Homo sapiens: one gene and its partners. The protein of the gene in region 4 purifies or fractionates together with the protein of the main gene of each other region. This does not show direct contact. Each region holds a gene or a part of one and is shown on either strand. Other genes may lie near its edges.

What was found.
Region 1: the proteins of DDX23 (region 4) and PRPF6 purify together in Homo sapiens (affinity purification with mass spectrometry; 5 studies listed by BioGRID and IntAct, with this or other methods). This does not show direct contact.
Region 2: the proteins of DDX23 (region 4) and TMEM37 fractionate together in Homo sapiens (co-fractionation; one large-scale study listed by BioGRID). This does not show direct contact.
Region 3: the proteins of DDX23 (region 4) and RSRC1 purify together in Homo sapiens (affinity purification with mass spectrometry; 2 studies listed by BioGRID and IntAct, with this or other methods). This does not show direct contact.
Region 5: the proteins of DDX23 (region 4) and IK purify together in Homo sapiens (affinity purification with mass spectrometry; 3 studies listed by BioGRID and IntAct, with this or other methods). This does not show direct contact.
Region 6: the proteins of DDX23 (region 4) and ERCC6 purify together in Homo sapiens (affinity purification with western blotting; one study listed by BioGRID). This does not show direct contact.
Region 7: the proteins of DDX23 (region 4) and PAXBP1 purify together in Homo sapiens (affinity purification with mass spectrometry; 3 studies listed by BioGRID and IntAct, with this or other methods). This does not show direct contact.

What each region holds. Positions count from the first base shown.
Region 1 is NC_000020.11:63,987,115-63,991,419, reverse strand, and holds part of PRPF6 (pre-mRNA-processing factor 6), read right to left. Parts: intron 1-4,305. UniProt on the Homo sapiens protein: Involved in pre-mRNA splicing as component of the U4/U6-U5 tri-snRNP complex, one of the building blocks of the spliceosome.
Region 2 is NC_000002.12:119,434,483-119,439,438, reverse strand, and holds the end of TMEM37 (voltage-dependent calcium channel gamma-like subunit), read right to left. Parts: intron 3,149-4,956; exon of another isoform or gene 3,054-3,148; intron 2,551-3,053; coding exon 1,999-2,550; 3' UTR 935-1,998; downstream 1-934. UniProt on the Homo sapiens protein: Thought to stabilize the calcium channel in an inactivated (closed) state. Modulates calcium current when coexpressed with CACNA1G.
Region 3 is NC_000003.12:158,539,782-158,543,657, reverse strand, and holds part of RSRC1 (serine/Arginine-related protein 53), read right to left. Parts: intron 324-3,876; coding exon 171-323; intron 1-170. UniProt on the Homo sapiens protein: Has a role in alternative splicing and transcription regulation. Involved in both constitutive and alternative pre-mRNA splicing. May have a role in the recognition of the 3' splice site during the second step of splicing.
Region 4 is NC_000012.12:48,828,845-48,832,603, reverse strand, and holds the end of DDX23 (probable ATP-dependent RNA helicase DDX23), read left to right. Parts: intron 1-30; coding exon 31-182; intron 183-417; coding exon 418-526; intron 527-1,287; coding exon 1,288-1,462; intron 1,463-1,911; coding exon 1,912-2,135; 3' UTR 2,136-2,848; downstream 2,849-3,759. UniProt on the Homo sapiens protein: Involved in pre-mRNA splicing and its phosphorylated form (by SRPK2) is required for spliceosomal B complex formation.
Region 5 is NC_000005.10:140,653,852-140,658,156, forward strand, and holds part of IK (protein Red), read left to right. Parts: intron 1-86; coding exon 87-201; intron 202-664; coding exon 665-735; intron 736-829; coding exon 830-876; intron 877-1,977; coding exon 1,978-2,141; intron 2,142-3,702; coding exon 3,703-3,811; intron 3,812-4,305. UniProt on the Homo sapiens protein: Involved in pre-mRNA splicing as a component of the spliceosome. Auxiliary spliceosomal protein that regulates selection of alternative splice sites in a small set of target pre-mRNA species. Required for normal mitotic cell cycle progression.
Region 6 is NC_000010.11:49,456,208-49,459,588, forward strand, and holds part of ERCC6 (DNA excision repair protein ERCC-6), read right to left. Parts: intron 3,028-3,381; coding exon 2,608-3,027; 3' UTR 1-2,607. UniProt on the Homo sapiens protein: Involved in repair of DNA damage following UV irradiation, acting either in the absence of ERCC6 or synergistically with ERCC6. Involved in the regulation of gene expression.
Region 7 is NC_000021.9:32,750,625-32,754,929, forward strand, and holds part of PAXBP1 (PAX3- and PAX7-binding protein 1), read right to left. Parts: exon of another isoform or gene 1,492-4,305; intron 729-1,491; exon of another isoform or gene 630-728; intron 595-629; coding exon 495-594; intron 409-494; coding exon 293-408; intron 1-292. UniProt on the Homo sapiens protein: Adapter protein linking the transcription factors PAX3 and PAX7 to the histone methylation machinery and involved in myogenesis.

The DNA of each region.
Region 1 (4,305 bases), on a different chromosome or scaffold from region 4:
GACACGGCCTTGGTCTGTTGCCCAGGCTGGAGCACAGTGGCATAAGCATAGCTCACTGTAGCCTCTAATTCCTAGGCTCAAGCGATGCTCCTGCCTCAGCCTTGGGAATGTAGCTGGAACTACGGGCATGTGCAACTGGCTAATTTTAATTTTGTTTTTGTAGAGACAGGGTTTCACCATGTTGCCCAGGCTGGTCTCGAACTCCTAGACTCAAGTGGTCCTCCTGCCTTGGCCTCCCAAGGTACTAGGATTACACATGTAAGCCACTGCACCCAGCCTGATGTTTTTTAAAATGCATTAACCCTGGAGGTTCCAATCAATTTTTAAAATGTAGGGCTGAGTGTAGTAACTCATGCCTGTAATCCTAGCACTTTGGGAGGCCAAGGTTAGGGGAGGCAGGTGGATCACTTGAGGCCAGGAGTTCAAGACCAGCCTGGGCAACATAGACAAAAATTAGCTGGGTGTGAGCCTGGCGTGGTGGCTCAAGCCTGTAATCCCAGCACCTTGGGAGGCCAAGGCAGGCAGATCACAAGGGCAGGAGTTCAAGACCAGCCTGGCTAACATTGGTGAAACCCCGTCTCTACTAAAAATACCCATCTCTACAAAAATCAGCCGGGCGTGGCGGTGCATGCCTGTAATCCCAGCCACTTGGGAGGCTGAGGCAGGAGAATCACTTGAACCCTGGAGGCGGAGGTTGCAGTAAGCCGAGGTTGCGCCATTGCACTCCAGCCTGGGCAATAGAGTGAGACTCCATCTCAAAAAAAAAAAAAGAAAAAAGAAAAATTAGCTGGGTGTGGTAGCACGTGCTTGTAATCCCAGCTACCTGGGAGGCTGAAGCAGGAGAATCGCTTGAGCCAGGAATTGAAGGTTACAGGGAGCTATAATCAAGCCACCGCGCTCCACCCTGGGTGACAGAGTAAGATCCTGTATCCAAAAAAAAAAAAAAGTGAAATGCAATGCCATTCACGTTTAATTACTATAGGTATAAAATTTATGCACAATGATTTAATAACGAGCTTCTAAAAAGATGTCCAGGCCAGGCACATTGACTTATGTCTGTAATCCCAGCACTCTGGGAGGCCAAAGGATATGGTTTACATCTGTGTCCCCATGAAATCTCATGCTGAATTATAATTCCCAATGTTTGAGGTGGGGCCTGGTGGGAGGCCACTTGAGTCTTGAGGGCAGACCCCTGATGGCCTGGTGCTGTCCTCGAGGCAGCAAGTTTACATCACGTAAGATCTGGTTGTTTAAAGTGTGTGGCAAGACTGGGCACGGTGGCTCATACCTGTAATTCCAACACTTTGGGAGGCTGAGGCGGGTGGATCACTTGGGGTCAGGAGTTCAAGACCGGCCTGGCCAACATGGTAAAACCCTGTCTCTACTAAAAACACAAAAATTAGCCAGGTGTGGTGGCGCGTGCCTATAATCCCGGCTACTTGGGAGGCTGAGGCAGAAGAATCACTTGAGCCTGGGAGACTCAAAAAAATAAAAAATAAATAAAATTCCAGAAGAACTATATTTTACTATTCTAAAATTATCTTCAAAAAATAAAACATTCTACATACATCACAGGAAGTTATGATTACATGTATAAAAAGCAACAGAGCTGGGCGCAGTGGCTCACGTCTGTAATCCCAGCACTTTGGGAGGCCGAGGTGGATGGAGCACAAGGCCAGGAGTTTGAGACCATCCTGGCCAACATGGTGAAACCCCGTCTCTACTAAAATACAAAAACTAGCCAGGCGTGGTGGCAGGCACCTGTAATCCCAGCTACTTGGGAGGCTGAGGCAGGAGAATTGCTTGAACCCGGGAGGCAGAGGTTGCAGTGAGCCAAGATAAAAAAAAGCAACAGAAAGAGGAAATGAGCCAAAATGTTAACTGTTACTTTCTAGACTTATGAATAAATGTTATGCTTTTACCCATACTTACTCTTATTTTCCTAATATTCTATAATGAGAACTTTTTATTTTTTTCCTTTTTGAGACAGTCTCTGTGGCCCAGGCTGGAGTGCAGTAGCGCACTCTTGGCTCACGGGAGCGAGCCACCACACCTGGCTTCCGTTCGTTGCCTGTGCTTGTGGGGTATTACTCAAGAAATCTTTGCCTAGTCCAATGTCCTGTAGAGTTTCTCCAATGTTTTCTTCTAGTAGTTTCAGCTTGAGGTCTTAAAGTCTTTTAATTTGATTTTTGTATGTGGTGACAGAGAGGGGTCTAGTTTCATTCTTCTGTATATAGATATCCAGTTTTCCCAGCACCGTTTATTGAAGAGATTGTCTTTTCCCCAATAAATATTCCTGGTACATTTGTCAAGAATGAGTTCACTGTAGAGGTACCTATTTGTTTCTGGGTCCATTCTGTTCCATTGGTCTATGTGTCTGTTTTTCTGCCAGTACTATGCTGTTTTTGTTACTACAGCTCTGTAGTATAATTTGAAGTCAAGTGTTCCCCCAGTTTTGTTCCTTTTGCTCAGGATAGCTTTGCCTATTCTGGGTCTTTTTTGGCTCCATGTACATTTTAGAATTATTTTTTCTTTTTCTTTTTTTTTTTTTGAGACGGAGTCTCACTCTGTTGCCCAGGCCGGAGTGCAATGGCACGATCTCAGCTGACTGCAACCTCTGCCTTCCAGGTTCAAGTGATTCTCCTGCCTCAGCCTCCCAAGTAGCTGGGATTACAGGCACCTGTCACCATGCCCAACTAATTTTTGTATTTTTAGTAGAGATGGGGTTTAGCCAGGCTGGTCTCGAACTGCTGACCTCAAGTGATCCACCTGCCTCAGCCTCCCAAAGTGTTGGGATTACAGGCATGAGCCACTGCACCTGGCTATTTTTTCACTATCTGTTAATAATGTCCCCAGTATTTTGATACGGATTGCATTGAATCTGTAAATTACTTTGGGTAGTATGGATATTTTCTTTTATTTTAAGATGGAGTCTCACTCTGTTACCCAGGCTGGAGTGCAGTGGTGCAATCTCAGCTCACTGCAACCTCGACCTCCTGGGTTCAAGCGATTCTCCTGCCTCAGCCTCCCAACTAGCTGGGACTACAGGCGTGCACCCCCACACCCGGCTAATTTTTGTTTTTTGGTTTTTTTTTTTTTTGAGACAGAGTCTTGCCCCGTCACTCAGGCTGGAGTGCAGTGGTGCAATCTCAGCTCACTACAACATTTGCCTCCTAGGTTCAAGCAATTCTCTTGCCTCAGCCTCCTGAGTAGCTGGGATTACAGACGTGTGCCACTACACCCAGCTAATTTTTGTATTTTTAGTAGAGACAGGGTTTCACTATGTTGGTCAGCCTGGTCTCAAACTCCTGACCTCAAGTGATCCACCCACCTCACTCTCCCAAGGTGCTGGGATTACAGGCGTGAGTCCCAGCGCCTGGCAACTTTTGTAATTTTTTTAGTAGAGACAGGGTTTCACCACGTTGGTCAGGCTGGTCTCGAACTCCTGACCTCCAGTCATCCACCTGCCTCGGCCTCCCAAAGTGCTGGGATTACAGGCGTGAGCCACCGTGCCCGGCCATTTTTGTATTCTTAATAGTGACAGGGTTTCTCTTTGTTGGCCAGGCTGGTCTCAAACTCCTGACCTCAGGTGATCCACCCACCCTCAGCCTCCCAAAGTGCTGGGATTACAGGTGTGAGCCACCACACCTGGGGGCATAGCCTGCAACTTTAATCAATTTGTCAGTTCCAATAGTGTTTTGGTAGAGTCTTTAGGGTTTTCTAAATATAAGATCATATCATCTGCAAACAAGGATAATTTAACTTCTTCTTTTCCAATCTGGATGCCCTTTTATTTATTTCTCTGGTCCGACTGCTCTAGCTAGGACTTCCAGTACAATGTTGAATCACAGTGGTGAAAGTGGGCATCCTTGTTGCGTTCCAGTTTTTCCCCATTCAGTATGATACGAGCTGTGGGCCTACCATATGTGGCTTTTTTTTTTCTTTGCGACACAGTCTCATTGTGTTGCCCAGGCTGGAGTGCAGTGGCACAATCTCAGCTCACTGTAACCTCCACCTCCTGAGTAGCTGAAATTATAGGCCTGAGCCACCACACCCAACTAATCTTTGGATTTTTAGTAGAGACAGGGTTTTACCATGTTGGTCAGGATGGTCTCAAACTCCTGACCTCAAATGATCTGCCTGCCTGGGCCTCCCAAAGGGCTGTGATTACAGGCGTGAACCACCCCATCCAGCTGTATATAGCTTTTATTGTGTTATGCTCCCCCCCCCTTTTTTTTTTTTTTTTTTTTGAGACAGGGTCTCGCTCTGTGGCCCAGGCTGAAGTGTGGTGGTATGATCTCAGCT
Region 2 (4,956 bases), on a different chromosome or scaffold from region 4:
CATGATCCCATTTCAGAGAAGACAGGTCCACCAAAGCCCTGTGACTTGCCCAAGCTACTAAGCAAAGAGGTGGCGGAAGTTCAGTCCAGGGCCTTTGACTTCAAATGCCCATGCTCCAAGGCTGTGTCTGTGCTCTCCCTGCTCCCAGGCAGGGAAGGACAGGGGCCATCTGCTGCCCCTCTAAGCTCCTGGGGACTTCAGTCTCACCCTCCACTCTCGTTCTTGGTTCCTTTGAATATCTGCACTCCCTGCCCCCATGTGAGGATGAAAAAGGACTCCATTTTTGAACGCTTCTGCAAAACCAAACCTACTAGTGCTCAGGGGGTAGCGTTCTGGAGGGAAGTAGAGAAACTCCCCTCCGTGTCAAGGAAAAGGCATCCTGCTGGTGGGTGGGTCAGCTCTACTCCCAGCTTTGGGTGACCCTGGACAAGTGCATCCCTCTCTGGGCCCTGACTCCCCACCTCCATACATCCCCTCCCCGTGAAGAAACCAGGGGGTTACACATCCCCTTTGCAACTTGTAGATTGCTCCAGGTTCCCATTTCCCAGGCTAAGATGCCGCCAGTGTGGTTGATGAGCTCTGTACTCTGTAAAACTGAGCAATTCATGGAAACCTTTCCAGGATGATCTCCATGGACTCTGGGCACCTTGGTGGTTCAACCTTAAAGCCCATGGCCTTATATCCTACAAAGCAGACAGCTTCATGACTCCATGCATCCTGGAATAAAAAATTTAAAACATCACAATAGACGTAGGTATAGGCACTCAGCCCAGACCAGGAAAGGAACCTGCAGCAGTGACAAGACCGGGGCAGAGACCAAAAACCCATGCAATTGCTGGGAGCCAGAATTCAACAGGTGAGGGAATGGGAAGGAGTCAGTGTAGAATGAAATGGGCTGAGGGCAATAACATCACCTACTTCTGGGCAGAAAAAGGACTAGAAAGGGAGCACTTTAATGAACAGAAGTACAGACGTGCTGGCAAGGATGGAAATCTCCACTGGTTCCTGGCCCCCTTCACCTCCATGCATCCCCAGCATGGGTGTTAATCATTACCCAAGCTCTCGCTGTTCCCCCTCACCCCCTGCAGAGTCCAGCAGGTCTAGATACGTGCTCTTTGAAATGTGTTCTGGGATTAAAAATGGTGCCCTGAGGCTGTCTAACCCTCACAAAAGACAGACACATGCACACACGGGCCTTGGGGAGGGCTGTGTATTAGCAGTCAGGTGGGCCCTCCTGGGAGAGCTTGCTCAAGAACTCTTCTCGGAAGGAAACCCACCTTAAGGTAGGGTTCTGATAGGCAGAGCTCCCAGAGGCACAGCCAGCTGCTAGAAGATGGGGTTATCCAGGGTTTGTAAGGTTTAAACAACGGGCAGGGAGGCAAACCGAGTCAAATGGTTTGGAAACCTACTGTGTGCAGGGCATTCTGAGGGAATCCTGAACTCTGCCTCTTTGGCATGACCAAAGCTGAAGCCAGGGACATACATACGAAGGCCCTTTGAGCTGGTGGAAGAAAGTCCTAGGCACTGATTGGACCCTTAGCTGGAAGAATGATCCATTCTTAACAACCCTGGGAGCCCCAGGGATTCTGCAGCCCCTATCCCAGCACGTGTCAATGAAACAGGCATGAACTATCCTTGGCTGTGCAGCTAGCTCAGGTACCAGTTACCCCTGTGCTTCCAACTGTATTCCAGTCCAGGGAAGAAAATTCAAGAAGGAGTTTTAAAATGTTTTTTTCTTCCTCTAAAATCAACATCTGGCTAAGCCTGTGCAGTTGGTGGCACTGAGGCACCCTCCTGGCCTCTGGCCCTGCAGACCAGGTGCAGAGGCCCCCGGGCCATTTCTGGCTGACCACCCACAAGTTATCGGCAAACAGGCAGCCGTTTCAAGGCCCTTGTCCAACCCAGCCCCACCAGAGGCCACATGCTGGAAAAGTCCCATTTTGACCATATTTTCTTGTGGAATCTGATGTCCCTGGAGGGGGCCTAAAATTTCCACGGTCATTCCCAGGGATGGGTGATGCTGTTGATGTGAAGGCCGCTGATGGCGTTCAGGAAGAGGAGGAAGGAGGCAGTGAATTCGCACCAAAACATTAGGGTGAAGCCGATGAGTGTGACTTGGTTCCTGAGGAGGATCACAAAACCCAGGAGCCCGCCGGAGGAGAGGACGAAAGACACCAGGAGGAGGATGGAACCCATGACCCACTTGCACTGTGAGTGTTTGTCCTCGCACAACTGGGACACCATGAGGAACTCCAGGCCAAAAATGGCGGCCACCACGGCCAAGGCGCCCACGCTGCGTACCAGGCCCATGCCCACGGCCAGCCCGGGCACATGGGCCTGGCCCAGGTCTCTGAAGCAGATCGTCTGGTTGGTGGTGGTGCAGAAGTGCCAGAGCCCGAAGAGGCGGTCCTCAGCCAGGAGCCAGTGCCCATCACAAATGGAGACCGAGGACAGGACCACAGCCAGGGCCACACACGTGATGATGAGGGTCCGGATGAAGGATTCAAAGAAGGACCGGCGGGGCTGCCTTTGGCCCAAAGGCCTCTGGGCCTGGAAAAAACCGTAGGAAGCACCCTGTCAGCCACAGCCCTGCCACGCCCCCAGGAACCTCTGCAGGGAAGACCCCTGAGCCCTCCATCCTGCTCCGCACTGTCTTATTCTCTGCTTGGTCTCCTGTGAAGCCCGGAACAGACCAGACCCACCGTTTGGGGGGAACCCTTCCTCCCTTCCAGACCTGTGAGCATTTACCATCCAGTATTCACCAGGCACTAAGAGCTTCCTGACCTTTCTTTCTTTTGTGATCTTCAGAGTGGGTGAGAAGTCCAAACCGACTGGCAAATCTGAGTCAGTTCTGAGTTCAGAAAACCTGTCGTGCCTGCATCCCATGACCTTGAGCATGCAGCCTGCCTCGGTTTCTTTGTACATAAAACAAGAATACGGCCTGGCAGAGTTGCCAGGGTTGTACCAAGCACTGAGACATTAGCACACCAATACACAGTTCTGTTTCCCTCCATCTCCCCAGGATACACGATTTTGTCCTAATCCCCACCCACCTGATGATTCGGGAGCTGTCCACGTTCAGCCCAGGACTCTAGATTATTGCCTCGTTTTTCTTGGTACTGAAAGTGACATTTGCATCTTGCCCTCAGACCTGTGCGGCCTGTACCCTACCCAGAGCTTGCCAACCCCATTGTCTGCTCCTGCAGCTTCTGGGCATGGGAAGGCCATTGCAGCTCTCCTCCACTTCCGGTTCAGCCCTGGAAGGAGGCGCCCCCACCCCGGTCTCCTGGCAAGCCAGGCTAGGTGTCCAGTGAGGTGTCTCATCTCACAGTTCAAGGACACCACCCGGGCACTGCACCCAAGCCCTGACCCAGAAAGCAAAAGAAAGACTTCAGGAACTCTTTACACAGCCCACAAGCCTCTCACAATCCGCTCCGCCTCCCCACCCAACCTCAGCTCCCAGCACACTCCCCTCTCCCCATGTCTAGAACTTTCTTTCCTCAGATGACTGGCCCTTAAGCCTGTAGTGGCTCTTCTGCAGCTCCTGCCACCCCTCCAGGACAACACCTCTTCTCCATTCTTCATGTCTCAGCTTAAAGTCTCCTCCACAGAGAGTGCTTTCCTGCCCACTCAACCCAGAGTCAGGCCCCTCCTGGTATTCTGTGTCAGGCACCTGTTCAAATTCTTCACCATTCTGAGGACAGTTTGTAGTTACATATTATTTCTGTCTCATTCCAACACTGTGTGCTCTGGGAAGGCCGCCCCCTACCCCCACACCACCACATTCTGTGTTTAGGCACTGCTGTGTCCCCAATACCTGGGCATTCAGTGGGTGCTCAAGGGAGAGCTGTGAGATAAGTCAAAGGTCATTGGCAACCACTGTCACTTCCGTCTGAAGCTCCTTTAAACTGAGTCTCCTGCACAGTCATACATTAAATGACCTGCTTTGCAGTGTGTCTAGAAGCTGCCCAGGTTACACCTCGGTTTGGGAGGTATGCAAAACAGGCACGCATGACGGTCACTGCTAGGACCCAGGAGAATGGAGCAGTGAGGAACATGGGGTGTGTCCTATGCCATGGGCAAATGGAGGCTTCCTGAGGCAGGTCTGGGCCACTCCTCTCTGTGTGAGACATAAAATAAAGCCCTGCTTCTGGGAGACTCCTGTGGTCAAAGAGCCCAGCAAGAGTATCTGCTCACATGCCCCAGACACAGGAGCTACCGCTAATTTCAACCCCAGGGATACAGGAATAAGGATGCAGTTTGCTTTCAGCACCTCTGCCTTAAGTAGGATCCTATTTTATTCTTAAACCTATGAGGTTGATAAAGTAGGAAGCTCCATGGTGGGTGTACAGAGAAGGAAACTATGCAGAGGGCAGGTGACTTGCCTGAGATCACTCACCTAAAGCACAATGAAGCTCTTTATGGCTGCCCAGACAATTGTATGATATGCAGGAGGTGGAATCCGTTCAGCGAATAAATACTGACTAGGGCCTTCTAAGGACAGGGCCTTTGTGCTAGGGGCTCAGTACTGAGCCCTTACAGCCCTCCCTACATGGGCTGTAAGCTCCTGGATGGGAGGGACCGCACTTGGTCTGTCCCAGCACGCTGCCTGGCCAGGATTCCAGACATGTCCCAGAACAAAGGGGAGGAATTCCCTGTGCCCCATGCCCTCTTGGTGAGGAAAAGGTGCGTGCAGAGGGATGCCTCAAGGGCCATGCCAGAGCTAGGACCAGCCTGGGTCCTAGCTGAGATGAAGGCAGCCTGGGTGCGGTCAAAAACATGGAGCTAAGAGTATGGGCTGTGGTTCTCAAACTGTGTCCCCATGCTCCTGGTGGGGCTTCCAGTGCTGAAGCCGGGTGGGCAGGGAAGCTGAGCAGGCTGGCTCTGCATCCCCTTCCTCACTTCAACTGAGCCCTGTACCTGCTTGGGACATTGGGGGTCCAGGAGTCTGTATTG
Region 3 (3,876 bases), on a different chromosome or scaffold from region 4:
ATATAGATAACAGTTCTAAAGGCCTGGGGGCCAGATGCCTATTTTTAGCAAGGGAATATGAACCTGTTTCCTCCAATGGTCTCCTTGGTGTTAGCACAAAAGGATAACAGATTGAAATAATTTCAGTAAATTAGACTTCAACTGACATTCGTAAAGTTTAAGGATATTACATTTGGATGGGCCAGGGAATTGTCATCTTGGTACTTGATAGCAGTAGGGATGCTGGTAGGATCTATTTCTTTTTCAGTACTGGGTGGATCAGCAACTGCTGATGCTGGTCCTGATGTTGAAGTTGCTTGTTTCACTTCACTAGGTTCCACTGACTGAAAGAAACAACACATATTAATTTCAACACAATACACAATTAGAGTTTTACTTCAAAAATATTTCTGATTTTGAATAACAACTGTTCAATTAGTCTCCTTTGAGATGATACCCATCTCCAAAAAGGCCCTACTTTTTGTATTTGTTTGTTTTAGAAATACAGTTATTTTATTTTTATATTTGTTTGTTTAGGAATAACTATATTTAGGAATATAGTTATAGATATATAGAAATAGAATATAGGAATAACTATATTGTATTTGTTTTAGGAATAACAAATAGAAAAATGCTGAGAAAATGTCAATCATTTCTTATGATAAGCACATTTTTCTTAAGAAATTGGTACTTACGTGCCTATACTATTGAAATATACATATATTTCATATATCTAAATTCTATTAATCAAAACAAGCTTACAACAAATATCCAACATTTAGTTGGCCAATTTAGGTATGAAAAGTAAATTCAAAGGTTATCTTTAGAAAAATAGCCTTATTGAGTTATAGAATTCATATACCATACAATTTACCCTTTTAAAGTACATAATTCAATGGCTTTTCACATATCCATGGAGTTGTGCAATTATTACCAGAATCAACTTTAGAACATTTTCATCATCCCCCACAAAACCTCATACCATTAGCAATCATTCCCCATTCCTTCCAACCTTTCCATCCTAGGTAACAATTAATCTTCTTTCTCTATGGATTTGCCTATTCTAGACATTTCAGATAAAAGGAATCATACAATATGTGGTCTTTCATGACTGGTTCTTTCATTTAGCATAATTTTTTCTTTTGAGACAGAGTCTTACTCTGTCACCCAGGTGGGAGTGCAGTGGCACAATCTTGGCTCACTGCAACCTCTACCTCCTAGGTTCAAGTGATTCTCCTGCTTCAGCCTCCCGAGTATCTGGGATTACAGGTGCACACCACCATGCACACTCGGCTAATTTTTGTATTTTCAGTAGAGACGGTGTCTTGCCATGTTGGCCAGGGTGATCTCGAACTCCTGTCCTCAAGTGATCAGCCCGCCTTGGCCTCCCAAAGTGCTAGGATTACAGGCGTGAGCCACCGTGCCCAGCCACATAATGTTTTTAAGGTTCATCCATGTTGCAGCATGTATCAGTACTTCATTATTCTTTATTGCTAAATAATGTCCCATTGTATGGATCTACCACATTTTATTTATCCATTCATCAGTTGATGAACTCAAAGGTTGTCTCGGAGCTACTTAAAATATTAAAATATATATATAAAAGTTTGAAAAAAAGGTACGATGTATCTTTGGCAAAAAATAAAACTCTAGGATTTCTTATACCATCATGCAAACCATAGACTCCCAATTTATTCCACCTTTACTGAGTATTCACCAGGTGCGATACACTGTACCAAGTGCTGGGGATACAACTAATAAATCATTGTTTCTGCCTTGAAGGAGCCAGCAGAGTAGTGCTTACTTAGTTACATTTCAGTAGCTTCTTCCCTAAGAAAGAAGGCCAAGGAGTGACTGATTAGCAGTAAGGTTACAGGGATAATATGAAATGGATTAGATCAGAAGCTGAAATTAAAAAGTAAAATTAAAAAAAAACAAGATGAATAGGAGATTGTTATGTAGCCTTTTTTATACCCATTTGTTCCACACCTATTGTTTTTCAATTTCCATTTATTTTAACTTATCTATAATTCTGAACATTTCACTTCTCTGAACAAAGCCAAAAACAGATGTCACTAAGAAAAATATACAGAGGATAAAATATGCATGAATTAAACTGTTCTTAGGTTAATTTGTTTTAGAGTTGGAGATCCATTTATTTAACCAGTATTTATTGAGCACTACTAATTGCTAAGCACTGGGTACACAGGCAGAATCAAATAGATATGGTTCCTGTCCCAAGTGGCAATTATATGTTGCTAATGGAGTTGACAGATTATAAACAAATAAATTCCAAAATAATGCATAATCACAAATTGTAGTATGTGCTATAAAGGACTATACAAGGTGCTGACAAAGAATGATGGGGATCAGGAAGGGAAAAACATCTACTTTAGATTGGGTGGCTAGAGATGGCTTCTCTAGGAGGTGAAATTTAAGCCCTGAAGACTTAGAAGGAGCCAGGCAGGTGAAAAGGAAGAATGGTTCTCTGGCCAGAGGGAAAAGACAAAGATCCTGAGAGAGAAGGGCTTGGTGTCTTTGAAGATCAGAAAAAAGGCCAGAGGGGCTGGTGTATAGTGAGCAAAAAGACAGTGAGACACTGCAGGCCAGAACTTGGGGTATTTCTTCCTTAACACAGCCACATCACCACTCTGCATGGGTATCACTTCCCAGCACCACAGCAGGAAAGTGCCCTCATACAGAAAGCTGGGTAACTGTGGGGCTCACCTTTTATTTCCCTTCTCCAAAGGATCACCCTCCTGAGCTGCCTATTGTTACATTCCTGAAAACAATGTCTTACACATCTTGTCAAGTTCTATAGCTGTTTATGGTGGGAGGGCAAATTTGGTACCAGTTATTCTGTAATGGTCAGATGGTCAGTAAAGTCTAATTATTCTTGAAAAATATTGTTTTGGCTGCTGAATGGGTCCTGGACTAGATAAATGCAAAAGGAAAATCAGGAAGAACAACCAGAGGGCTACTATAAAAGTTAAAGAATGAGATGATGATGTGGATTTAAATGGTGGCTGTGGATTGTGAAGAGGAGACAAGTTATGAGCTATTTTGGGGATGATGATATCAAGATCCACTTTTTTTTTTTAAGGCATGTGTTTTATTCAATTAAAATACTCTAATTTTTATTCTAATGGAAGCTGATCAGCATTCATAGGACAGATTTATTCCCTCATGGACAAAAGGGGTAGATATCTGAGGGATAGATATCTGGGCAGTCATGTATGTTTAGGAATTCTTACAAAGTAAGAGAAATCTATAAATTATTTTCAAATGTTAAGATGCTTATGACTACTAAATCTAACAATGATGCCAGTGTTAATGATAATATTAACTTTTATAGACATTTAAATAAATATTTATTCAATTTGTTTTGGCAGCTTTATTCTCATATTTTGGTGTCAGCAATTTTTTTTGCCAAGTCTCAAACATTTGTATGTCTCCAACACACTGTGCCTAGATGGTTTGTGGCCCTAAGTGATATTATACTGACCCTTTACACAACTGAGAACATTTAAAAAGCCCAATATTCTGCACAAGTGCAAGTGGGAAATACGCTAATCCAAGAGGTTCAAGACATTGATTTTTGGTAGTCTATACTGCCTTACGGGGACTGTAAGAGCATATCATTCTGCGTATCTTAGCCATGGCATGATAGGGCTTAGCTAGGAGACACTTTTCATGTTAAACTGCCTTAAAAATATGTGCAGTGCTATTATTCTAGTTATCAAAGATGTGGATACCACCTCTTCAGGTAGCAGAGATAAGATTCTACCATATAAACCAAGCAATCTCATCTTGTTTTTACGTACACAGTACATTAAGATTTCTTTGAGAAGTACTTACACATAATAGAAGGTGAAGCTCTCAGAGGTTAGATCAGAG
Region 4 (3,759 bases):
GGTGCAGGGCTGAGCCTCCTGTTTTCGTAGACAGTCATGTTCACGGCCACCATGCCCCCAGCGGTGGAGCGTCTGGCCAGGAGCTATCTTCGGCGACCTGCTGTGGTGTACATTGGCTCCGCAGGCAAGCCCCATGAGCGTGTGGAACAGAAGGTCTTCCTCATGTCAGAGTCAGAAAAGAGGTATGAGGGCAGCTGAGCCAGGGGAAACAGGGTGGAGAATAAAATGGCTCTGAGAACTTTTTTAGTGCAGGTGCAGGGCAGGGCAATTGCTCTGCTGTGTTGAAGAGCTGCTGTTTTCTTGGGCAGAATGTCATGGGCATTAAAGACCCTGAAAGTAGTGTTCATAGATGAGGGTTGGGCATTTCACTTGGAGTGGGAGGTATTATGCATCTTGTTTTTCTCCTCTTCCTTCCAGGAAAAAGCTGCTGGCAATCTTGGAGCAAGGCTTTGACCCACCCATCATTATTTTTGTCAACCAGAAGAAGGGCTGCGACGTGTTGGCCAAATCCCTGGAGAAGATGGGGGTGTGTCTGGCAGGGGAGAACAAAGTCTAGCCTCTGTGGCACTGCTTTCTGAATCTAGCAGGGCCCCCTAGGCTCTTCCTTTCAAGTCTCACCCTTTCTTTAGCCTGTCCAGCAATCAACAAGTTAGGACCAGGGTGAAGGGTGGTTTGAGGGAATAAAGAGAATGGAATCAATTGCTGGGACCCCCTGTCTGCTGCAGTAATGCCAGCCAAAGCTGCCTTGGGTCTTCATCCTGGTGAGGTGGAGCCAGGGAAAGGTTTGAGACCCATATCCTGGCAGTCTGAGGATGTAGAAAAGAGTAGGTGAAAACTGCTTAGGTACGTTGAGAGGAGGTGATATGGTCAGAAGGGAGCTGATAATCAGTGTCCTTTACTCCTGTCACTGGTGCTTGAGGGGAGGGGTGTGTCCCTGTCACTCAGCTCTCCAACTTCCTTAAACTTCTTGATCCCTGCTTTCTACCCTGATCTCGCCCCTAATTCTCTTTGAGGACTTTTCATCTGTCTGGCTCCACCGCTCTCCCAGCTGTTTTGCCTTTGACCTTACTCTGTGTGTCCCTGCCACACCACACCTTTTTCTCTCATCCCTCTCTTCAGCTCACTTGTTCTCTCCTTCTTTCACTGCAATCATTCTCTTGTTTCCTTTCCTTTCTCGTACTCTGCTGCTCTCTCCAACCCTCCCTTCATCTGTGTCCCATTCCTCTGAACTCCTGTGTCTCTCCTTGATTGCATTGCTCACTCTTCACTTCACCATTCTTCCAACAGTACAATGCTTGCACACTGCACGGTGGAAAAGGCCAGGAGCAGCGAGAGTTTGCGTTGTCCAACCTCAAGGCTGGGGCCAAGGATATTTTGGTGGCTACAGATGTGGCTGGTCGTGGTATTGACATCCAAGATGTGTCTATGGTTGTCAACTATGATATGGCCAAAAATATTGAAGGTAAGTTCCAGGGAAAGCAGCTTCAATCCAGGGTGAAGTCAGATTCCTTATGGTGTCCCACTGGAAGTCAGGGTGCTGTCCATGGAAGGCTGTTACTGCCTCCCTCAGTTCCAAGTCTGGGATTGCTTGCTCCCATGAGAAGCACTCCTGTCCTTTATCTTACCTGGGTTTGTTGTCCCAGCAGCTGGGATGACACTTGTGTCCTCAGGAGTGTGAAGAATGAAGCTAGGCAGCTGTGGGTCTTAGTGTGGTAGGGACCACAGTCAGTAGGAGGACAGGGGAGATGGGCACCTGGAGAGGGCACTGTGGGCGCCTCAGGTTCAGGCAGCATGTGCTGTATTCCTGCCTTTGGAGATGGGGTGGGAAGGATGCCTCTAGAAGTGGAGGCATCAGACACGGCTCCCCAGGGCATCTGGGCTATGCTGAGTGACGTTCTTCCCATTCCCCAGATTACATCCACCGCATTGGCCGCACGGGACGAGCAGGCAAGAGTGGGGTGGCCATCACCTTCCTCACAAAAGAGGACTCTGCTGTGTTCTACGAGCTGAAGCAAGCTATCCTGGAAAGCCCAGTGTCTTCCTGTCCCCCCGAACTAGCCAACCACCCAGATGCCCAGCATAAGCCAGGCACCATCCTCACCAAGAAGCGCCGGGAAGAGACCATCTTTGCCTGACACAGCACTCTTCCTGTGGGCTGAGGGCATCTCCAAAGCTGCCTGATGCCTGTTTTTCAGAACCCTCACATCCCTCTTTCCAGGTCCTCACTCTTGGGATATGGGGGCTTAGGAAAACAATCCAACTCCCTAGCCCAGACCCTCAGGTCAGGAGGCCTGCGTGTGGGGCTGCAAAAGGAGAGGACGACGCTGTCGGAGGCAGGGAGAGCAAATTACCACAGCTTCTTGGCCCAGTTCTGCCCTTCTTTGCTTTGGGATTGCACTGGGCCATCAGCTCATGCCAGGCTATGGGGGCAGCCAGTTGGCATTGCTCCCCAGACTGAACAGAAACCTGGCCGCCGGATGGGACCTCCTTTGGCACAGACTTGACTGTGTAACTGCATAAACTGCAGTAGCATCATTGCCCTAGATGCCCCAGGAGACCTGGCACCATGAGGATTACAGACAGTGGAATCTTACTGTCATCTGGACAGCTGTTTTCCTGTTTGGATGGTAAAGGAAGTTGAGAGTCTTTAGACCTGTGCACAGCCCCGCACCAAGGGGTGCTGTATGCTCTAGGCATCCCCTCCCCCAGGGGATTTTCTAAGTAGATGGGGGGACACGGTGAACTGGCTGTGTCCATCTTTGTCACTGAGTGAAATCTCTGTTTTCTATTCTCTGAGAAGATAAGTTTGTATGTTCTGAGAATAAATACATGAATATTAAGACTGTTAGATCTAGTTCTAGTTAAACTTCCCAGCTTCTCCCTGGCAGGAGGGACACCACTGGGTGCGGGGTGGGTTGGCTTGGAAAATGAGAGACAGCCACATTAAGAGAAGAGTAGAGGGGTCTCTGCTGATAGTCTTGAGTCTGTAGGTGGACTTGAGAGGAGATGCAGAAGCCACGCAGGACTGTAATGCATCTTCCGCCCCTGCTCTAGCCTCGCGTAATGTGTGGCCCTGGCCTGGACACCCTCTAGGGAGCTTTAGGCAAAGGTGAGAAAGGAAAGCAGTTGTGAAATTTTGGCAGGTGAGGCAGTTGGAACCACTCTGCCGCTGTGTGCCCAACGCCTGGTCTCGGGAGCTTTGCTTGTGGCTCCCTAGTTGGACCCATTGCTCCTGGGAGGGGATGGTGCAGAACGGGTGGACCCAGCTGTATCAGGCTGTGGTGAGAGGAACGCAGGGCTGCAGTCCTCCCCCCATACCCCTCTTGTTCACATGCTCTTCTTACCCCACAGAAAGAGTTGGCCTAGTACATAGAGTTCAAGTTGTAGCTGCTTCTAGGGCCTTTTTGGCCTGGCGCAAGGATACTGTAAAGCCGTGACCAAGCGTCTTCCCCACATCCCAGGACAAGCCCTTCCGTGCTGCTGGATGTCTCCCTCTTGACACCTGGGCATGAGGAGTGGGGATGCCTGGGAGTGGAGTGCCTCCCCAGCTCTGCCTTTGTCCCCTTCCCGCTGGACAGATCCTCTGAGAGAAGGGCGGCCCAAACACATCTTTCCCTCCACCAGACTTTGGGCCGCATCACAGACAGAACAGAAGCCGGAGGGACTGTGCATGATGTTTATTAGTGATGACAGTGAGGTGAGGCAGGGGCTTGTGGAGCATGCTCTGTAGGTCACACACTAGAGCCATAAGGCAAGAGT
Region 5 (4,305 bases), on a different chromosome or scaffold from region 4:
CTTGACCTCCCAGAGTACTGGGATTACAGGCGTGATCCACCACGCCTGGACAGTACTGTTCTTATGTGGCCTCTTTCATTATACAGGGACAAATCAGCTGCAGAGAAGAGAAGACAGTTGATCCAGGAGTCCAAATTCTTGGGTGGTGACATGGAACACACCCATTTGGTGAAAGGCTTGGATTTTGCTCTGCTTCAAAAGGTGAGTCCTGGTGGTCAGGTGGGGAGTAATACTGTCGTGCTGAATGCTCTTGTATGGGTCTGGCAAGATGAGGAGGGAGATTCCTGAGAGTTCAGACTGAGTAGAAGAAGGGCTAAAGATGGCCCCTCTGAAAAGCTGATTGCTACTCATCCTTCAAGTATCAGGCCAAATTTTATTTCCTTGGAGAAACCTTCCCTGATCACCCAGGTGTGGTTAAGCACTTCCCTTCACCTCCTGCTTCCTGTACCTTTGCATAGCCCTTCTGTTTCATTTACCACAGCAGTTATTGTACTTTGTTGAAATTGTTTAATTTGTCTGTCTCATCTGCTATAAGCTCCATTAGAGTAAGAACAATATCTGTCATGTTTAATATTATATTCTTAGTTCCTGGTACAGTGTGGTGTAGTGGATGTTCAATAAATATATAAAATGAGTGTCCTAACCCTGCTTGCTTTCCTGTTAGGTACGAGCTGAGATTGCCAGCAAAGAGAAAGAGGAAGAGGAACTGATGGAAAAGCCCCAGAAAGAAACCAAGTAAGTAAATATTATGGAAAGGTTGAGAATTTAGAAAGGTGGGACCTAAAGTTAGAGCACATTTAGCAAAAATAAAACTTTTTTGTCTTTTCAGGAAAGATGAGGATCCTGAAAATAAAATTGAATTTAAAACACGTCTGGGTGAGTACAGTTTCTATACTAGTGACTATGCATTCTGGATGAATTGTACGGAATTTAATGCTCTGGGAAGGATATGCTTCTCCTTTCCCCCAACCTCCTTTCTTCTTTCTTTCTTTTTGAGACAGTGTCTCACTTAATCGCCCAGGCTGGAGTGCAGTGGTGTGATCATGGCTCAGTGCAGCCTTGACCTCCTGGACTCAGCCTCTTGTGTAGCTGGCACCACAGGCATGTGCCACCATACCTAGCTAATTTTTTTTTTTATTTTTTGCAGAGATGGGGTTCTCTGTGTATTGCCCAGGCCGGTCTCAAACTCCTGGGCTCAAGTGATCCTCCTGCCTTGACCTCCCAAAGAGCTGGGATTCTTTCTTGCCCCCAAAACAACTAACTCCCATAAAATACTCTAATAAGACTCAGACATAGATTTAATTATTTCATATGTCATTTATGTCTCCTCAGGTAGATTGAAAGATTTTTCAGTTTGGGGCTTATGAGTTAAAAGAAGTAACATGGTTAGTGATTAAAAGTTCAAAACTTGGAGTCAGAGAGACCTGAGTTTAAACCTTGATGATGAAACAGCACTAAGTGTATGATTTTAGGCAACTGACTTTGCTGTTTGTTCATCTGTAAAAATTGGGTTACTATTTACCACATGACTTTATTGTAGGGATGAAGAAAAATGAAATCTATAACATGCCTATCATATTGAGCAGGTAGTAGAGCTGTTTTTTCCATCATCATCAATATTACCTTAAACTTCATCCTTCTTCCTCACAGGACTTAATACAATACAGGTGCATAGTGCCCTTGAAGAGGCAATGTAGAAGAGTGGACAGGAGCCCAGGCTTTGGAGTTACATGGCCTGGTTCCATTCTTTGCTCCATTACTTAGTAGATACATGACTTTAGGTAAATTACTTAAATCTCAGCCATAGTATTCTTATCAGTAAAAAGGATAATAATATCCACTTCATAGGGCTGTTGCAAAGATTAAATGACGCAAAGCTTGCATAGCACTTGGCATGGTGGCTAGCACAGAGTAAGCACATAAGTGACAGCTGTTCTTGTAGATCCTGGCTACTTGCTGCTCTTCTCCTTATTGTAGGCCGCAATGTTTACCGAATGCTTTTTAAGAGCAAAGCATATGAGCGGAATGAGTTGTTCCTGCCGGGCCGCATGGCCTATGTGGTAGACCTGGATGATGAGTATGCTGACACAGATATCCCCACCACTCTTATCCGCAGCAAGGCTGATTGCCCCACCATGGAGGTGAGTGAATGGAATCCTGAGAGCCTATCATGTGAGCCTCAAGCCTGGGAATCAGCCTGGCCTCTGCCCCGTGTCCCTTGTCCACCATGTCACCAAGTGCTGTTCACTTTTACCTCCTAAATCTCAACTGAATCCATTCACTTTTCCACTTTTTCACCAATAACATTCCAGTCTAAGCTATAATCATTTGCTGGAACTATTAACTTACTATTTTTTTAGAGACCAAGTCTCACTCTGTCACCCAGGATGGAGTGCAGTGGTGCTATCTTGGCTCACTGCAAACTCCGCCTCCCAGGTTCAAACGATTCTCCTGCCGCAGCCTTCCAAGTAGCTGGGACTACAGGCATTCATCACCACACCTGGTTAATTTTTTTATTTTTAGTAGAGATTGGGTTTTACCACGTTGGCTAGGCTATTCCTGACCTCAAGTGATCCATCCGCCTTGGCCTCCCAAAGTACTGGGATTACAGGCATGAGCCACTGCGCCAGTCCTCTGGAGCTATTAAAAAGGCTTCTAATTGGTTTCCGCACTTCCACTCTGGTTTCCGCACTTCCACTCTGATTTGTTATTATATCTTGTTATTGAGGTGTTATTCACATGCCATATAATTCATCCTTTAAAGAGAATTTTTTTAAAAATTTTTGTGGATATATAGTAGGTATATATATTTATGAGGTACATGAGATGTTTTGATACAGGCATATAATGCATAATAATCACATCATGGAAAATGGGGTATCCATCCCGTTAAACATTTATCTTTTGTGTTACAAACAATCCATTTATACTCTTTTAGTTGTTTTAGAATGTATAAATTATTACTGCCTATAGTCACCCTGTTGTGCTATCATGTAGTAGGCCTTATTCATTCTTTCTATTTTTTTGGTACCTATTAACCACCCCTACCTCCCCTACCCTTCTAAAATATACAGTTTGGCTGGGTGCAGTGGCTCACACCTGTAATCCCAGCACTTTGGGAGGCTGAGGTGTGAGGATCACTTGAGGTTAGGAGTTCAATACCAGGTGGGCCAACATTGTAAAACCTGATCTCTACTAAAAATTAGCCAGGCGTGGCGGCATGTGCCCGTAATCCCAGTTACTCGGAAGGCTGAGGCATGAGAATTGCTTGAACCCAGAAGGTGGAGGTTGCAGTGAGCCAAGATCGTGCCACTGCATTCTAGCCTGGGCGACAGAATGAGACTCTGTCTCCAAATAAATAAATAAAATGTAAATTTTTGTCTCACTACAGTTTAGAAGCTTTTAGTAGTATCTCATTCTTAGGATAAAGAGCAAAATCTTTACCATGACTTTGAGCCTCTGCAACATCTGGCCTTTCTAGAATGTTCTAGACTCCTGACTTTCTTGAATGGTCTTGATTCATTTTGATGCAGGGCTTTTGTGCAGGCTGTTTTATCTCTGGAATATCCTTTCACAGCACTTCGTTTCCCTCCCTTCACCTACTGTATTGTAATTCAGTCTTTAGTTTGTTAAGTGAATGAATGAATAAATGAAGAGATTTCTGCTGAGTGGTTTAACATTCTTGTTTCTTGGTATTTTCAGGCCCAGACCACACTGACCACAAATGACATTGTCATTAGCAAGCTGACCCAGATCCTTTCATACCTGAGGCAGGGAACCCGTAACAAGAAGCTTAAGAAGAAGGATAAAGGTACCTGGAGGGTTAGAGAGAGAAGCCTTACCCACAGAGGACGTTTGGGGATAAAACCAAGGTCTCCTGGAGCTTTCTGTCTCCAGAATATTGAGAGGCTCCTGGGAAGCAGAGAAAAATGGGAGTACTGGAGCATTGGCAAGGAGACAGTTACAGCCAGATTCTGTCTCCTTAACCTACCTAAGAAGCAGTGGTCAGGTCTGAAGCATGAGGGATGGAGAGTGGGTAGCTTATGTCCTATTTATTTATTTTTTTTAAAAGAGATTTTTTGGTGAAAACCAGAAAACCTAGACAGATTCTAAAAAGGCTCTAATACTTGACCGACATTTTATTTTATTTTATTTATTTATTTTTTGAGACGGAGTCTCGCTCTGTCACCCAGGCTGGAGTACAGTGGTGCGATGTCTGCTCACTGCAACCTCTGCCTCCCGGGGTCAAGCGATTCTTCTGCCTCAGCCTCCCAAGTAGGCACTATAGGCACTATAGGCACGCAT
Region 6 (3,381 bases), on a different chromosome or scaffold from region 4:
AAGACTGGCAGGCCAACTTCTCCTTCCTCAACACATCACTTCCATCTCTTGAGATGCCAGGTCACTACTGAAGCTCCCATTGGCCTCCCAGCCAGCAAGAAAGGGGAATGTCAAGGAGAGTGCATACCCTGCTTCTTTAAAGGGCCAATTGGGAAGTTTAAAACTTAGTCATATGGCCACAATTAACTATAAGAGAGGCTGAGAAGTAGTCTTAAGCTGAGCAGCCAGACGTCCAGGTAAAACTCAAAAATTTTATTAGTAAAGGAAGAATGGGAAAATGACATTATAGCAGCAGTCTGTGTCATGTGATTCTCTAAATGCATGGAGAATACACACCAAACCTAGGGCTGTACTTAGCTGTGGAACAGGTGCAAGATGGTGTGGGGGTGGGGAGGCAGACTATTGCTTGAACATTTTTAATGGTGATAGTATTAACATTTAATTTTTTGACAAAATTTTAAAATCCTTTATTTGTGCTGATAAAGCATGTTAAATACATTAAATCTATTTACACTGTACAAAGCTTTTAAAGTTCTAAAAATCAGATTTTTATCTAAATGAATAAATTTCTCTGTATTGTTAAAACCATTCTACTTAACTGCATTGTTCTCCAAGTCCCTCCAGCCAGGAGGCACGGTAACAATGTGTCAGATCTCCACACTGAGACACCACCTTCCCAAGATCATGGTACATCAGCAGCAGAACTGAGACAAAAACTGGAACAAGGACCACCTTGCTCCTACTGCATTATAGCTTTTGATAGTATTTGCTACTTGAAGAGGAGGCTATACCTTGTCTAGCTCAATACAGTTTATGTTTCAGACACTATAAGTATGATACCCAAATGCTTCATGAGTGAACAAGGTCAGCAGATCACCCTGAGAACAAGGAAGACACAATTTCCTTATAGGCTAATGATTATAAAAATAGAAATTAAGAGCTCCCCAGAAACAAACCACTTAGTCAAAAAGGAAGGAGTTTTGACTTTCTTCTAAGCCAAGTACTCAAGTTTAAGACTTATTGGCCTATTTAAAAATTCTTTCTATGACTTCTAAACAATGATGGCAAAGTGACAAAAATAATGTAATCATCTTCTTCCCTCATTATATATAAACCAAACTAAAAACAAAAGAAATGAACAAGCTATAATCCAAAAAAAACTAGAAAATCCTGACAGGAATCATATAGAACATCTCTAAGAAAAGGATTCTTGGCTTAAGCAAAATATTAGAGCAGAGAAAGCAAAACTCATGTCCTCTCATGCAGTCCGGCAAGGCCCCCCTGCCCAGAACCCTCCTCTCTGAGTCACATGGATGAGCAGACAGAAGATCTGGACACAGCTATCCATGTTAAGCATGAGAGAGATGTAAAGAAATAGCAGGGTAGGAGGGCAGGCATACTACAGAAAAATGAGAGAGAGGAAAAGAGCATGCCAGAGAATACAAATCCAAGAAACAAACTGCACTAAGACAGCTAAGAAGAAATTTCAGGAATACGATGAATTTCGGAAAACAACACTTCAAAGATGAGATGATAAAATCATCCTGAGAAGGAAACAAGAAAAACATGGGTAAGAAAATAAACTGAGGATCAAAGCAACACCATCACAGAACCACAAACACATAAACAGTAGTGAGATACAAACAGCCTTGGCTGGAATCCAAACCGCAGAAACAAGAAAGCCCGTCGCAAGGAATGCAAAGGCAGGCGCAAGACGAAGGCAACTGGAGAGAAGACAGCCTGCCAGCCTGCAGACAAGAGAGGCCTGGAGTGGTGTCACTTCATGGTAACAACGGCTGGGTCTGCTGTGGGCTGCAGTGATGTTTGTGTGCATGCATGTGTGTGGTTTTTATGTACCTACTTTTGGCTTTAATTTGATTTTTTTTAATGATAACACATTTTGTGACTGTAGGAGAGAAAAAGATGCCCTCTGCTTAAAGGAAAGCCAGGGTAAACTGAATACCCTACAGCTTTCCACAAATACATGTCTTATCATTTATTACCATACTATTTCATGCTTTACTAATAAAAATACTCACCAATTTACCAGTACCTTGAAAAGAGGATCTTTCCAAGAAAATTAATATAATTATCAAACAACAAATAACAAACCTGACCTTTGTGGGTGGCAAATGGTAAATATAAATGTTTAAAGTTTAAGCATCAAAATAATGCTGTTATCAGATATTGATGAACTTATTGAACAGGTCTGACTGAATGTAAGACCTGTTTTTAGCACCAATAAAAAAAAATATTGAGATTTCTGTTCTGCAAACTTCTAACTGTGCTCCCTGACAGCATCTTTTGGGTAAAGGAACAAATGTGCTCCAAGGAGTAACTGTTAGGTACCTGATTTACAATATAATTAGATTGCCAAAAAAAAAAAAATCAATCCAAGTATTTTCTCCTTTAGCTAGCATTATTAAAACTTTTAACTTTCAGAGAAGAGTTTCTTCTTCCTTAAAGTTTTAATTCTGAGGTAGACATCATGCAAACAAACATCAAGTGCAGCCAACTTCCATTGACAAACATGATTATTAATAATAAATTAATAATCAGAAATGCCCGTTAGAAAAAGGGACTTGAAAGTTTAGGAAGCAATGTTGTTTAGCAGTATTCTGGCTTGAGTTTCCAAATTCCTTCACCACCAGAAGTTCTATGGAAAGTGCACAGATTTCTCAATAGTTCTCGGAAGACACAAGACTGTGATGCAGATAACTTGGATTCAAACTCCTGCAGTATCTCCCTGGTGCTGGCCTGGCCATCAGTGTGGGCCTGGAAAGCGATGAAGTTTCTCATCTCCACCAGAAGGTCATCGTGTTCTGTGGTGGGCAGCAGGGCAGAAGCTTCCTGCAGGTGCCCGCTTTCACTTTCTAAACGCTCTGGCAGAATCAGGTGGTTTCTAGCTCTCATTTTAGCCAAGAGTGAGGAGGAAGCGAGGGGCCCGGATGAAGAGTCTGCATCTTCTGCTCTTCCACTAAAATGCTCAGGGACATTATCTTTTCCCTCCTTTTTCATGATGCCATCCTATAAAAAGAAGACCACTATACTGATATATTTAATTTCTAGTTTATGCCCCCACTTCCTTCCCCAAAGGCTGTGAAGGGTCACAAGACAACACATGTGCCAGGGTGGTGAGGTTGACAGGGTGAGACTGAGACTCCACCTAATGAAAAGGGAAAGGAGGAGGGTCTGGTATCTAAATCCTCCCACTGTTAAGAGACCGTTTCCTAAAAAAAAATAAAGAGGGGGCAACCAAGCCATTCCCTTAGTCACCACCACTCAACATGGTGGTGGACAGGAAGGCAGAGTGGAGGCTTCCAGGCAAGGTTTCAGGAAAATCTGTCTCTAGGAGGCCCAGGACCACTTTCAGTACCTGTG
Region 7 (4,305 bases), on a different chromosome or scaffold from region 4:
GCTGCCCTCAAGGACCTGACACATTTCCAGTCACTTAAAATTCTACCATTTGGAACAGTAACAACATTTATTATGCAAATACTAAGTACACCCTATGAGAAGATGTTACCCCTATTTTTGAGAATTCATCATGATATTCACTAATAAAAAGGCATGCAAATTTCTGCAATTAAAAAAGAAGTGTCTGGTTCTAATGCAGAGACCATGAAGATTCAAATCATTTCATGGTAAAAACCATACCCAAGTAGAAACTAAACTGATGATGAGTCTTATTTCCAAATAAATGTCTAACCTTTTTCCAGATTGAAATTAGTAATATCTGTAGAAGTTTCTTCATCATCACTGGAAAGGCCTTCAAGGTGATCTGCCATCTTACCGGTTTGTTCTCTGGCTTGTCTACGACGAGTCCTAAATAATAAACATCAAGTTCCCAAACTAGATAACAGAGACTCCTCCCTTCCCAAACAAGCCAGAGCAAGGGTTTTGAGAATTACCTCCTGGCCTCCCGCTCTGCAATGCGACGTTTTGCATGCTCTTGATACAGTGCCCGATCGCGTCCAAAGGAGTCAAGATTTGGTGCCATCAGAGCTTTGTCTGCAAAACAACAACAGTTAAAATTAAAAGCCATCTTTCAACAATCTTGAGGAAAGAGTTTGCACAGAATAAGCCATTACGACAGACTGCTTGCTAATCTCAACGGCAAGATTCTGCAATAACTGGTAAACCAGGTAGGTTTTTGGTTTAGAACAAATTTCATTATTATTCTGCGTTCCCATTTTAAAAAGTAGAAAAATTAAAGAAGTGATTTCTTTTTAAGAGTTCAACAACCCTACAAATATGTAATTGGGCTTACTCACTATTTTTATGTCTAAGTAACAGGACAGCTATCAGGAATAGCTATCATGATGACCAAATAAATTAAAACTCTAAATTACCTGTGCAAAGGGAAAAATATTACATTTTTAAGGAGGAAGAACTTCAGCATCACATTGAATGACAGCAGGAAAACATAGGAAGACATAAGAAAACAGCTTTGTTGCAAGAGTTTAATAAATTTATTGTAATTTTGCTTTGTAGAAATTTGTTTTCTATCACTATTTTTAGAATAAGGCATCTGAAAACCGCATCTGAGCAGGACCAACTTCCGCCTTCTCAAATGCTAATCTTTCTCTTTCACAGCATAGTTTTATTTTATTTTTTTGGTCTTCGTATTTTCCATTTCTCAAAAAACATTCTAGGGTAATTTCCTAGCTTTAGCTTCCAATCCTATTTAAATTTATATTTCAGTTATCATATTTTTAGTTTTCAAGAGATAGTTCTTGTTCTTACAATATTCCTCTTCTACAGCATTCTATATACTCCTGTTGAGTAGGATACCTTCTATTATCTCCCTGGGGCTCCCAACTGTTTGAAAGTAATCTGTTTACAGAAAACTTGCATACTTGTACCAGCACTGTCTGTTTCCTCAGTCCCTTTGGTTCTGCTGCTCAGGTTGGTCCTTATGATCATCGTTAACTGCCTGTTCATATAGAAGAGCAAGACTGGAAGCTGTGTGTGTGGGCAGGAGCTGTCTAACAGAGGTGTCTCCGTCGGATCACTAGGTACTGAGCCAGTTCTTTTGTTGGGGATCCCCAGATTTTAGTGTTTCAGGGTCTTTATTTTGGACCTACTCTCTTTAATCAAAAAAGACTCCCCTAATCTCTTGCCTAGGTAAAAGAAGGGGTGGGGGAAACATCTGTCCACTATACTTCCCTCATTTCTACGTTTTAGTTCCACACTATGAAGATATGACAGTAAGGGGAGGCAAACAACCCAAACGACTGGGTGAGAGGGGAGGGAGGTGAGCACATGCAAGATGAAAGACATCCAAGTTAAGACTTGCATATTTTTTTACTTATCAATTGATATTTACTGATATCAACAGAGATGTGTCACCAAAATCAGCAACAGGAAAAACAAAACCAAAATTTAGCTCTTACTTCAGAATATCCTAATTATCAGACCTTACTATCTATCTATCTATTTATTTATTGAGACGGAGTCTTGCTCTTGTCGCCCAGAATGGAGTGCAATGGCACAACCTCAGTTCACTGCAACCTCCGCCGCCCAGGTTCAAGCGATTCTCCCGCCTCAGCCTCCTCCTGAGTAGCTGGGATTACAGGCACCCGCCACCAGCTAATTTTTGTATTTTTAGAGACGGGGTTTTGCCATGTTGGCCAAGCTGGTCTCAAACTCCGCCTCGGCCTCTCAAAGTGCTGGGATTACAGGCGAGAGCCACCGTGCCTGACCAGACCCTACTATTTTTAAAAGTTGACTTTTTTTTTTACTGAGTTTTTCATTCATATTTCAAAATAGCTCTGAAATTAGGAAGGAGGTATGTTCCTGAGTGCATCAATTACAATGAAAAATTACTAAACCAGAAAGATTTCCCAGCCCTAGATGTGAGTTCACTACACACCCCAGATGAATTAGCTAAAATATCCCAAACTATAAAAATAATTCCAGACTCAAGAGTTTTCCTTCAAGAAATATTTTTAAAAATATCATTATACGGCTGGGCACGGTGGCTCACGCCTGTAATCCCAGCACTTTGGGAGGCTGAGGCTGGTGGATCACGAGGTCAGGAGTTCAAGACCAGCCTGACCAACATGGTGAAACCCCGTCTCTACTAAAAAAAATACAAAAATCAGCCAGGCGTAGCTGAGGCAGGAGAATTGCTTGAACCCGGGAGGCGGAGGTGGCGGTGAGCCGAGATTGCGCCATTGCACTCCAGCCTGGGCAACAAAGCGAGACTCCGTCTCAAAAAAAAAAAAAAAAAAAAAACATTATACTTAAAACATCACTGCATGTATAGGTTTTGTAAAATGTGCACTGGAGGAGACAGGTGAGTCTAACATGACTCAAGTGATAGCCTCCTCCATTTCTGTAAGAATTATACACAGTAATTGCAGATAAGTGCTTATAAATCTAAACAGAAGAATTTCAGACTATTCTTTACTTCTTTAAAAAACAGATCAGAAAATGAATTGATTCTCCAGCATCCCATGTCATTTTCCTCAAATCTTTGGCAATTAATGTATACTCCCTCTAGGACTGTATTTTTCACTTTCCCAGTATCTTTTAATTTCTTTCCAACTTTCAATCAAACTAATATAAATAATTCAACTCTTCTTTCAAATCCCCTCTAAGTAAATAGCTCCATATTCTCAAGAACAAATTACAGATGGGAAAAGGTATTTGATGAAATGTACAGCTCACACAAACCATCTAACTTAAAAGAAAATTACCTCCCTTTGTAGTATAATGGTTACCTGTAATCTGCCCCAGAAATCTGGTTCTGTCTGGATCAAAAGTGATCTGGGAGGGATGCATGAGTCATGTAGGTGGCTAATGTCAATAATCCAATTTAAAATTCAGTGGCAAAAACAGAAGGTCATAGCCATTTATAGGGCTCATAGCTGAGACTACCTCAGCTATGAGGGCCGTATTACCATCTGTTTATGCCTCTCCAAAACCCATCTGACATATAGGAGGATGCTTTTTCAGGGATCCTATGTCTCTCTGACTTAGAGACCATGTATAGCAAAGCATTGCTTTCTGAAAGAATAACATTAGAGCTATTTGCATTTGATCACCTGGAGAGATTGTTTAACATGCAAATTTCTGGATGCTGAAGACCTAGTAAGAATCACTGGGGATAGAACCAGAAAATCTGTATGTTAAACGAGTATCAGGTAATTGTGATGCACACTTCCATTTGAGAAATGCTGACAAAGGGAACAAAGAAATGACAAAAGAAACCACAAGGAATTCACACTAGGAAAATTCCTATTAGCGCACTCAAGAATATGGAGGGTAACGGAAAAAAAGGAACTAAACGGTTTAAAACATCCAGTTAAAGGACCTCCGCTGAACTATTTAACAAGAGGTTTCTAATTCTGGTTTTCCATAACACATGTCATAATGATGGAAGTACAAATTCAATTTCTATCCATTTGTATACAAAATTTCAAGAATTGTAAGCACCAACTGACTTACTAAAAAACACAGTACATAAAGCAAACTAGAGAAACATTTAAAAAGAAATTACAAAAAGTTTGCTTTATCCAAAGGATGAAGCTCAAAACTCTCCTATCTTGGAGTTGTGTCATTTGTTAAGTTATAGCTTCCCTCCCCCTACCCACAACATGTCCCAGTCCCTAAACTCAAACTCTTTCACTGTGATCAACAAAAGCATTTATTTGTATTGGTGTTTTGAATGAAAATGGGGGAAAAAACCAATTAGGGCCAAACAGATAATGGTTT